Linked DNA regions of Homo sapiens: region 1 is linked to region 2. Evidence: fine-mapped expression QTL. A gene starts in region 2. The other region holds a variant in brackets. All regions are shown on one strand. Distances are between the middles of the regions.

Region 1 (5,379 bases), 310 kb before region 2:
TCCTGAATTTGAATGTTGGCCTGCCTTGCTAGGTTGGGGAAGTTCTGGATAATATCCTGAAGACAGTTTTCCAACTTGGTTCCATTCTCCCCATCACTTTCAGGTACACCAATCAAACATAGATTTGGTCTTTTCACATAGTCCCATATTTCTTGGAGGATTTGTTCATTTCTTTTTACTCTTTTTTCTCTAACCTTGTCTTCTCACTTTATTTCATTAATGCGATCTTCTATCACTGATACCCTTTCTTCCACTTGATTGAATTGACTATTGAAGCTTGTGCATGAGTCATGAACTTCTCGTGCCATGGTTTTCAGCTCCATCACGTCATTTAAGGTCTTCTCTACACTGTTTATTCTAGTTAGCCATTCGTCTAACCTTTTTTCGAGGTTTTTAGCTTCCTTGCGATGGGTTCAAACATGTTCCTTTAGCTCGGAGAAGTTTGTTATTACCGACCTTCTGAAGCCTACTTCTGTCAGCTCGTCAAAGTCATTCTCTGTCCAGCTTTGTTCCATTGCTGGCGAGGAGCTGCGATCTTTGGAGGAGAAGAGGCACTCTGGTTTTTAGAATTTTCAGCTTTTCTGCTCTGGTTTCTCCTCATCTTTGTGGTTTTATCTACCTTTGGTCTTTGATGTTGGTGACCTACAGATGGGGTTTTGGTGTAGATGTCCTTTTTGTTTATGTTGATGCTATTCCTTTCTGTTTGTTAGTTTTCCTTTTAACAGTCAGGTCCCTCAGCTGCAGGTCTGTTGGAGTTTGCTGGAGGTCCACTCCAGACCCTGTTTGCCTGAGTATCACCAGCAGAGGCTGCAGAACAGCAAATATTGCAGAACAGCAAATATTGCAGCCTGATCCTTCCTCTGGAAGCTTCGTCCCAGAGGGTCACCCACCTATATGAGGTGTCTGTCGGCCCCTACTGGGAGGTGTCTCCCAGTTAGGCTACACAGGGGTTAGGAACCAACTTGAGGAGGCAGTCTGTCCGTTCTCAGAGCTCAAACGCCATGCTGGGAGAACCACTGCTCTCTTCAGAGCTCTCAACAGGGACATTTAAGTCTGCAGAAGTTGTCTGCTGCCTTTTGTTCAGCTATGCCCTGCCCACAGAGGTGGAGTGCATAGAGGCAGTAGGCCTTGCTTAGCTGCAGTGGGCTCCACCCAGTTCAAGCTTCCTAGCTGCTTTGTTTACCTACTCAAGCCTCAGCAATGGCGGACGCCCCTCCCCCAGCCAGGCTGCCGCCTTGAAGTTCGATCTCAGACTGCTGCGCTAGCAGTGAGCAAGGCTGTGTGGGTGTGGGACCCGCCGAGCCAGGCACAGGAGAGAATCTACTTATCTGCCGGTTGCTAAGACCTTGGGAAAAGTGCAGTATTTGGGCAGCAGTGTCTCATTTTTCCAGGTACAGTCTGTCACGGCTTCCCTCGGCTAGGAAAGGGAATTCCCCCGACCCCTTGCGCTTCCCAGGTGAGGCGATGCCCCGCTCTGCTTTGGCTTGCCCCCTCCATGGGCTGCACCCACTGTCCAACCAGTCCCAATGAGATGAACCAGGTGCCTCAGCTGGAAATGCAGAAATCACTTATCTTCTGCGTCGATCACACTGGGAGCTGCAGACCAGAGCTGTTCCTATTTGGCCATCTTGGAAACCTAAATTTGCTTATTTTTAAATGATCATTCTGAACACATGTGAACAGACTGGGAATATTCTGTTCCTAGGACAAACGAAACTCTGCTACCAACCTCAATAAGGAAAATTTGCCACTTCCTTATATCCCATCAAGTTACCAACTACTAAACTCTAAATGAAACTTTTGGAAGATCTTATAAACAGTGGTAGCAGTTTACCCAAAAGTCCTGTACTTCATTTGGCCTAAATGAATTTAGTTTTTTATTTGTTTGTTTTAAAAGTTTTGTTTGTTTTTAATGTTAAGCAATACGTATAGATATCCAAATAGAAGAAAGACCTATCATTTCATGAGTGATAAGACAGTTTAGTACAGTAAAAAGGGCACTGGGCCAGGAACCAGGAGGCACAAAATCTAGATTCAGTTCAAGCAAAAGCTAGCATTGTGACCTGGGACAAATTACTTAGCTTGTCTGGTTCACACTTCTGTCTTCTGTAAAATAAAGAGATTGAAGTAAATGATTTCCAGGGTCATTTACAGCTCTATGACCCTTAGGGAAAAGGCAAAACAGGCAAATGCATAATACTTTATCATTCAATTAACTGATCAATATATACTTTATTAATAAGATAAAATCTTGAATGTCGATATTTGAAAATATAAGTAAACACATGCATATAGATGTGTATGCATATATATACCAGTAAACAAAGTGAGATAAAGAACCTTAAAAGTTATAGAGTCCAGTGGATTCACATCACACAAACTTCAGTGTGAGCCCAGAGCATGCAGACAGTTCCATATGACAGTCTTAACTTGTTGCTC[T/C]GGAGAAGAAAAGAGATGGTATTGTGAATCTGATGCTCCCTAAATTGGTCTTCCTTCCCTGTGCTTTTCACTACCCTGAGTGGGATTCTAAGGTAGAAAGACATATAGCCTTCCAGTGCTCAAGTAAAGAAAAAGTAATCTGTTTCTGAAATTAAAAAAAAAAAAAATTCTGCTAGATCTAACAGGTGATAGTGTAGATACAATATAATGAACGGAATGAGAATATGGGATTTTGACTACAGGTGATTTTGTCTTGCTGTAGTATGAGGAGACTTCACCAAATATTCATCTGCTACGTGTTTATGTCTCCTCATTTAGGATTCCCTTTAAAGGAACATTATATTGGAGGTGTAATGTTTTGAAACTTTTAGAATTCATTATTTATAATGCAGAATGAGTGAATATATGCTACAAAACAAGCCCCATCCAGTCTTTCTGACCTCCAACATATTCCATTGCAACACCTCTTTAAAGTAATAAATGGCTGGATATTAATAATTAAGATCCCACAGGAGAGGGAGAGATGCACTCAAAATTAATTCATTTTGTCTTTTAAAGGACCTAATAAAACAAAGAGGCACAATGTCTTTAGTTGATTGAGATGAAGACCTCCCAAATTTTATATCAAAAAGTGCTCTTCAATTATTAACTTCACCTTAACCAGAAACAAAAGTATATTCCAATGAGGAAAAAGAGACAAAGGTGACCTAAAATTTGCATCAAACATCAACACTTGGACAGTCCATTATGACAAATATCCTCACACTTTGAAAACAATGTCAACCTAACTGAAGAACACTTCAGGCATAATGTCGGGAATCTAAAACTGCAACTTGTCCTTTAACTGCTGTTATAATCATCCTAAGCAAAGAATATCGTTCTTTAGGAAGCTGAGATTGATAATTAACTACCTTATATAGGCTTATTATTATTATTATTATTATTATTATTATTATTTTGAGACAGAGTTTTGCTCTTGTTGCCTAGGCTGGAGTGCAATGGCACAATCTCGTAGGCCTCTTATTCTTAGGTGTGCCTTACACTATGATTTGGAGAATATCAAGACTCAAATATTCACCAAGATGGAAAACGCAAGCACAAAATCCCAGAGTTTTGAAGGCCCTGTCTGGGATCACACAATACAAACTCCCAATTGGAAAAATTGTCTGTATACCTCTTTTCTCAGCAGATGGTCATGGAGCCTCTGGAAATTCAAAATGCATTACATTATAAGGAATATCAGTCAATTTCTGGAGCAATCCTCCTGCCTCAGCCTCCCAAGTACTGGGACTACAGGCACAAGCCACCACGCCTGGCTGGTTTTTATACTTTTATTTTGTAGAGCCGGGGGTGGTGGTCTCAGTTTGTTGCCCAGCTGGTCATGAACTCCTGGGCTCAAGCGATCTTCCCGCCTAGGCTCTAACTGGCAACAACTTTTTAAGCTGGGTCCAAGACTCACTTCTAACAACTACTCATGGGTCCTGGTTGTCTTCTGTGGCTATGCTGACTAAATCTAGTTTTTCTTCTCTGACAGTCTGACAAATTATCAACAGAAAACTCTGTCTTCCATAAAGTCTTTTTTTTTTCCCTTTGTGAGACAGGGTGTCCTTCTGTCACCCAGGTTGGAGTGCAGTGACATAATCATGGCTCACTCCAGCCTCAACCTCCCAGGCTCAAGCAATCTTCCTGCCTCAGCCTCCCAAGTACTGTGACTACAACACAAGCCACCATGCCTGGCTGGTTTTTATACTTTTATTTTGTAGAGCTGGGGCGGGGGGTGGTCTCACTTTGTCGCCCAGCTGGTCATGAACTCCTGGGCTCAAGCGATCTTCCCGCCTAGGCTTCACAGTGTTGGGGGAGATTTGGGCAAGACAGCTGACTACATGCAGCCGGGTGGAACAGCTGCCACCAAGGAACCAGGATGACTGGCACGCTCCTAGCAGATCTTCAGAGGGAAGACACTGCGAGTAGACAGAAGACACAGAAGCTGGGCTGAAGGGGGAGGAAGCTGGGAACTTGTGTGGGGTTAGAGCACACTGGACTCATTTCTGGCCCCCAGTGACTCCTGGGGAGCAGGTGAAGTGAAATAGCAAGGAGCAACCCACTCTCGCCACGGGCCTTTAGAATCCCAGGAGGAAGAGACCCTTCAACCACCATGGACACTTAGTTGGCAGGGAGAGCTGCTCAGAAAAGTAGTAGGGGCAGCGTGCCAGCCAATAGAGTTTGGTGTGGGAGCATCTGTGGTAGAGCACCAGCAGGGATGCCCATACCCCTAGGATTGACTTGCTTCCGTAGAAGACTTTGGCTGTAGGGAAACTGTTTGACATGAACACTGTAGGGGCAGTCTTGCCCATCAGATGGGGCTGGTCTGACCTGAGTACCCCTAAGTCAGCTGGCCTCTTCCAGGGTCCCAGCCTGGCTAGGTCTGCTTGCAGTGCAGCCTCGGCAACCCTGGGGGCCTATATCATAGCTCCTACACTGGCAGACCATGCCTGACCAGTGGAGAGCTCCAGTGGGGCAGCCCCCTGTGGCCATGCACCAGCCTGCCCACTCCCTCCCCTCACTGCAGCTTCCCCCAGGCCCACGGCAACCACCTACATCACTCTGCTGGTGTGTGTCTACATGAGTGGATTTTGCCTTCCCTGCCCAACCAGTGTTTGCCTGTTACCTGTCCTAACACTGTTACTGGTAAGAGCGCACACCACCTCCTCACCCCCACTATACCACCATTGCAGTCAGTGCCTTGGTGGGCACAGAGCCCATCAGCCCCACCCCCACCAGCACCCCATCCCAGTGCCAACACTGCTGCCAGAGTGAAAATAGAGATGGAGAACACTGGACCCTCCCCAACCCTGAGCAGCCAACCCCTGGCTGCATGAACATGCACAGAGGGCACACACAGACCTGTGCTTGCCAGCTTCCTAACCCCATGCTAATACC
Region 2 (5,379 bases):
AGGCCAAGGTAGGCAGATCACAAGGTCAGGAGTTCGAAACTAGCCTGGCCAACACAGTGAAACCCCATCTCTACTAAAAATACAAAAAATTAGCTGGGCGTGGTGGCATGTGCCTATAGTCCCAGCTACTCGGGAGGCAGAGGCAGGAGAATCGCTTGAACCGGGGAGGTGGAGGCTGCAGTGAGCCGAGATCATGCCATTGCACTCCAGCCTGGGCAACAGGGCGAGACTCCATCTCAAAAAAAAAAAAAAACAACAGTGATAAGTAGCATAACAACATTCTTTTCTCTCTTTGTTCTCTGAGATGGAATTTCACTCTTGTCCCCCAAGCTGGAGTGCAATGGGGGTATATCAGCTCACTGCAACCTCTGCCTCCCGACTTCAACTGAAGCCACTGCCTCAGCCTCACGACTAGCTGGGATTACAGGCCCCTGCACCATGCCCAGCTAATTATTGTATTTTTAGTTGAGATGGGGTTTCACCATGTTGGCCAGGCTGGTCTCAAACTTCTGACCTCAGGTGATCTGCCCGCCTTGGCCTCCCTAAGTGCTGGGATTACAGGCATGAGCCACCGCGCCCAGCCAACATTCTTTTCTCTTTTTTAATATACTTGCATGAGGTATACATAGTACTTAAACCAATAAAAGAACAAATATCTGAGCTTCTTACCCAGTGTTTTGCGACTTCTTTCCACAGCTGTCCTTCGAGTTTGTTCAAACATTGCTTCCAAGTCAAATGTGCGAGCTTTTTTACCTAAAACATGAACAAATGGGAGACTGTGATTGTCTTGCAGTAAGTTGGCCAAACTTTAGGTGATCAATACTGATCAATAAACACTTACTTTGTCTAGTTTATAGCATGGCTCCAATATAACCATAATATATCACAGAAGAAGGAGTTTGAGTCACAGAAAACTTCTGCTGACAATCCCTTCACTAAGTACTATTAACCAGGCAACTTTCCCATCCTCCTCTAGATCCCTACCCTATGAAACAACAACACTGATGTGGGGAGGCAAAATGGAGAATGCCCCAAAAGTTACCCTTTGCAATATAATTAAGGTTATGGACTTTTAAATAGGGAAACTATCCTATTTGGCCCTTAAAGGCAAAGATGCAGAACAGCTATGGCAGAAGAAGTCAGAGAGATCCAATGTCTGAGAAGAATTTGAGGCATTATAGTTGGCTTGAAGACGAAAGGGGCAACATGAGAAGTAATGCAGGTACTTTAAGGAGCTAAGAGGGAAACAGAAATCTCAGCCCTCTAACAAGGAACTGGATGAGCATGGAAACATTCTCCTCCTCCCCCAGTAACTTTATCAAAACTCTTAAAATTTTCCCCTATTTGGCACAAACATATGGACAACTTTCTCACTCCTGAGTAAAGGAATGATGTACTAAAATGAAGGATTTATACCGGGTGGGGTGGCTCATGCCTGTAATCACTTTGAGAGGCTCAGGTGGGCGGACTGCTTGAGCTCAGGAGATTGATCAGCCTGGGCAACATGGTGAAACCTCGTCTCTACCAAAAGTATAAAAAATTAGCCAGGTGTGGTGGCACACATCTGTGGTCCCAGCTACTCAGGAGACTAAGGTGGGAGGATGGCTTAAGCCTGGGAGGAGGAGGCTGCAATGAGCGAAGATCGCACTAGTACACTCCAGCCTGGGTGACAGAGCGAGACTCCATCTCAAAAAATAAAAAAAGAATAGAAAAGGCTGGGCACAGTGGCTCACGCCTGTAATCCCAGCACTTTCGGAGGCCGAGACGGGCGGATCACGAGGTCAGGAGATCGAGATCATCCTGGCTAACACGGTGAAACCCTGTCTCTACTAAAAATACAAAAAAAAAATCAGCCGGGCGAGGTGGCGGGCGCCTGTAGTCCCAGCTACTCGGGAGGCTGAGACCGGAGAATGGCGTGAATCCGGGAGGCAGAGATTGCAGTGAGCCGAGATCTTGCCACCGCACTCCAGCCTGGGCGACTGAGCGAGACTCCGTCTCCAAAAAAAAAAAGAATGAATAGAGAAACTACAGAACTAGTATGTGTGAACACAACCCAAGGCCAATATGTGTAAGTCTACTGTTTAATTACTATCATAGAATTAATACACGCTGGTCAAAAGAAAACAAGAAGACCTTGAGAAAAGGTTCAGGGAAGTTAGAATCCCAATGTTTGGATGAACAGCATTTATAATTTTAAAATGGAAAATAAAGAGAAATCATTTTTCATGTATCAGTCTACTAAGTTTTGTTTTCATTTTTTAAATAATTTTCTTTTTAAATAATAATACCTACTCTGTGTTGGTAGGGATATGGTAAAAATGGCATTCTTAATTCTGTTAACTTTGGTATAACCTGGAACAAGTTTTTTGATGGGTATTACGGCAATAAGCATCAAGAAGCTTTAAAAGGCACATACCCAATTTTTCAGCTTTTTAAGTATTTATATTTCTGAATAAACTACACTCTCTTTTAGAAATCTACCCTACCGAATTACGTATTTTTAAAAATCCTCGTACAAATGCTGTTATTTACAAAAATGTTCATTTTAGCATTATTGGTGACTTAAAATTAGAAAAATCCTTTCTCTTCCTCTCTCTCCAGACTCTCATAACTGTCATCTGAGTTGGTTCCAACGGATAACGCAGAATAGAAGACAAATGGGAGAAGAATATTGACAAACTGCAAGGTATGCACCCGAGCTACAATAATTCCGAGTTGACAGCTCGATCTCCACTCCCACTCTGCGGATCTTCAAACCTCTGCACAAGGAAGAGGGTCTCTGCCTGGGGCAGTCACTCACCGAACCCCGTGAAGCCCATGGTGACCGCAAGCTGCGGGTCCGGTCCCGACGCGTCTGAGCCTGTCACTGGAGCAAGAGGAAAAGAGAGGCGGCCTAGTTAGTGCGGCGCCCCAGCTCCCCCGACACGGCCCACCCCGCCCGGACTCGCCTCATGAAACCCACCTTCGCTGGGCCCAGAGCGCTCCATGGCTGGCCGCACACCCCAGAACCAGCCACAGGGACAGCCCAAACAACTGCAGGGGAACTTGCCAATAACTTGCGGCAAATGCTGGAGGAAGTACCGCCTTCAAGCTACAGCGGCGCCGCCGAAGCCAAGAGCGGCGCCTTCCGCAGAGGGACCGCGGCTTTCTGCGCGGCACCGCCCTACCGGACAGGCGGGAAAGCGCCGCGCAACTCAGACCACTGGAGGGGAGAAGTAGTATCTGGAGTTTCTATAACATCCTTTCCCTTTTTTTTTTTTTTTTTTTAAGCCAGAGCCTCTGTCGCCCAGGCTGCAGTACAGTGGCGTAATCTCAGCTGACTGCAACCTCTGCCTCCCGGGATCAAGCGATTCTCCTGCCTCAGCCTCCCGAGTAGCTGGGATTACAGGTGCCGGCTAATTTTTGGTTTTTTGTTTTGGTTTGTTTTTTTTTTGTTTTTGTTTTTGTTTTGAGACGGAGCCTCTGTCGCCCAGGCTGGAGTGCAATGGCGTGATCTCGGCTCACTGCAACCTCCGCCTCCCGGGTTCAAGCGATTCTCCTGTCTCAGCCTCCCAAGTAGCTGGGATTACAGGCGTCCACCACCACGCGCAGCTAATTTTTTGTATTTTTAGTAGACACGACGTTTTGCCATGTTGGCCAGGCTGGTTTCGAACTCCTGGCCTCAAGTGATCCGCCTGCCTCGGCCTCCCAAAGTGCTGGGATTACAGGCGACACCCTTTGCTTTTTTTTTTTTTTTTTTTTTTTTTGAGGCAGAGTCTCACTCTGTTGCCCAGGCTGGAGTGCAATGGCGTGATCTCGGCTCACTGCAACCTCTGCCACCCAGGTTCAAGCTCTTCTCTTGCCTCAGTGTCCTGAGTAGCTGGGATTACAGGCGCCTGCCACCACACCCGGCTAATTTTTGTGTATTTAGTAGAGACGGGGTTTTGCTATGTTGGCCAGGCTGGTCTTGAACTCCTGACCTCAGGTGATCTGCCCACCTTGGCCTCCCAAAGTGCTGGGATTACAGGCCCCGTGCCACCGCGCTCTGCCTTTTTGTTGTTGTTGTTGTTGTTGTTGACTGAGTCTCCCTCTGTTGCCTTGGCTGGAGTGCAGTGGCGTGATCTCAGCTGACTGCAACCTCTGCCTCCCAGGTTCAAGCGATTCTCTTGCCTCAGCCTCCCGAGCAGCTGGGACTACAGGTGTGCGCCACCATGCCCGGCTATTTAGTATTTGAGACTACAGGCACCCGCCACCACGCCCAGCTAATTTTTTCTATTTTTAGTAGAGGCAGGGTTTACACCGTGTTAGCCAGGATGGTCTCAATCTCCTGACCTTGTGATCTGCCCACCTCAGCCTCCCAAAGTTCTGCGATTAAAGGCGTGAGCCACTGCACCTGGCCTGTCAGTCTAAAGTTTACAAGGCTAATCGTGTGCTCAGGATTGTCCTTCTTAAACAGAATGTGGGAGTTCAACACTTTAACGTTTAGAAGGTGGAGAAGAATCTCTTTCTTTTTGAGACAGAATCTCACTCTGTCACCCAGGCTGGAATGCAGTGGCACAATCTCGGCTCAATGAACCTCCACCTCCTGGGTTCAAGCGATTCTTGTGCCTCAGCCTCCTAAGTAGCTGGGATTACATGTGACCGCCACCACACCCGACTTTTTTTTTTTTTTTTGAGACAGAGTCTCGCTCCATTGCCCAGACTGGAGTGCAGTGGCGCGATCTCAGCTCACTGCAACCTCCGCCTCCTGGGTTCAAGCAATTCTGCCACAGCCTTGCGAGTAGCTGGGATTACAGGCCCTGCCACCACCCCTGGCTAATTTTTGCATTCTTAGTAGAGACAGAGTTTCACCATGTTGGCCAGGCTGGTCTCAAACTCCTGACCTCAAGTGATATGCCCGCCTCAGCCTCCCAAAGTGCTGGGATTACAGACGTGAGCCACTGTGCCCGGCCTAATTTTTGTATTTTTTGTAGAGATAGGGTTTCATCATGTTGCCCATGCTGGTCTTGAACTCCTGAGCTCAAGCGATCCACCCGCCTCAGCCTCCCTAAGTGCTAGGATTACAGGCGTGGGCCACTGCACACAGCCTATGAAAGAATATCTTATACCAAACCTTGTACCTTTGGCGCTAAGCTGGATAAGAAGTGAGCATCTGATCAGCCAAGTCCACTGCTCCCATATTATCGTTATAATCCACAATGACACATGGCTTCTTAGTTTTCTTTCCATCTGTTGTCTACTTCAATCACAGTATCATTGTGGAATATTGACAACATTGTGACTGCCTTGTTGTCACACCATTTCAGTGCCATAAGTTCACCATGGAATTAACATCACACATAGGAATGCTATGTTTTCTAGGATTTGACATTTTCAGCAGTCGAGAATTACTATATTTTG

What was found. PIP is the estimated chance that this variant, and not a neighbour inherited with it, causes the effect. A credible set is the group of variants that fine-mapping cannot tell apart.
Region 1: its variant is the best candidate, but not a certain one, in a credible set for the expression of WDR70 in blood mononuclear cells (TOPMed, PIP 0.85).

The regions. Positions count from the first base shown.
Region 1 is chr5:37,684,969-37,690,347 of GRCh38, reverse strand. The region is part of intron 10 of WDR70 (WD repeat domain 70); the gene reads right to left. Among named protein-coding and RNA genes, the nearest start is that of GDNF-AS1, 150 kb to the left of the region's middle. The variant T/C (reference allele first, on the strand shown) is at 2,440.
Region 2 is chr5:37,376,976-37,382,354 of GRCh38, reverse strand. It overlaps WDR70 (WD repeat domain 70), which reads right to left and starts at 3,037. Exons shown (of 18, transcript NM_018034.4): 1 at 2,963-3,037; 2 at 2,801-2,866; 3 at 670-753. The coding sequence starts at 2,987.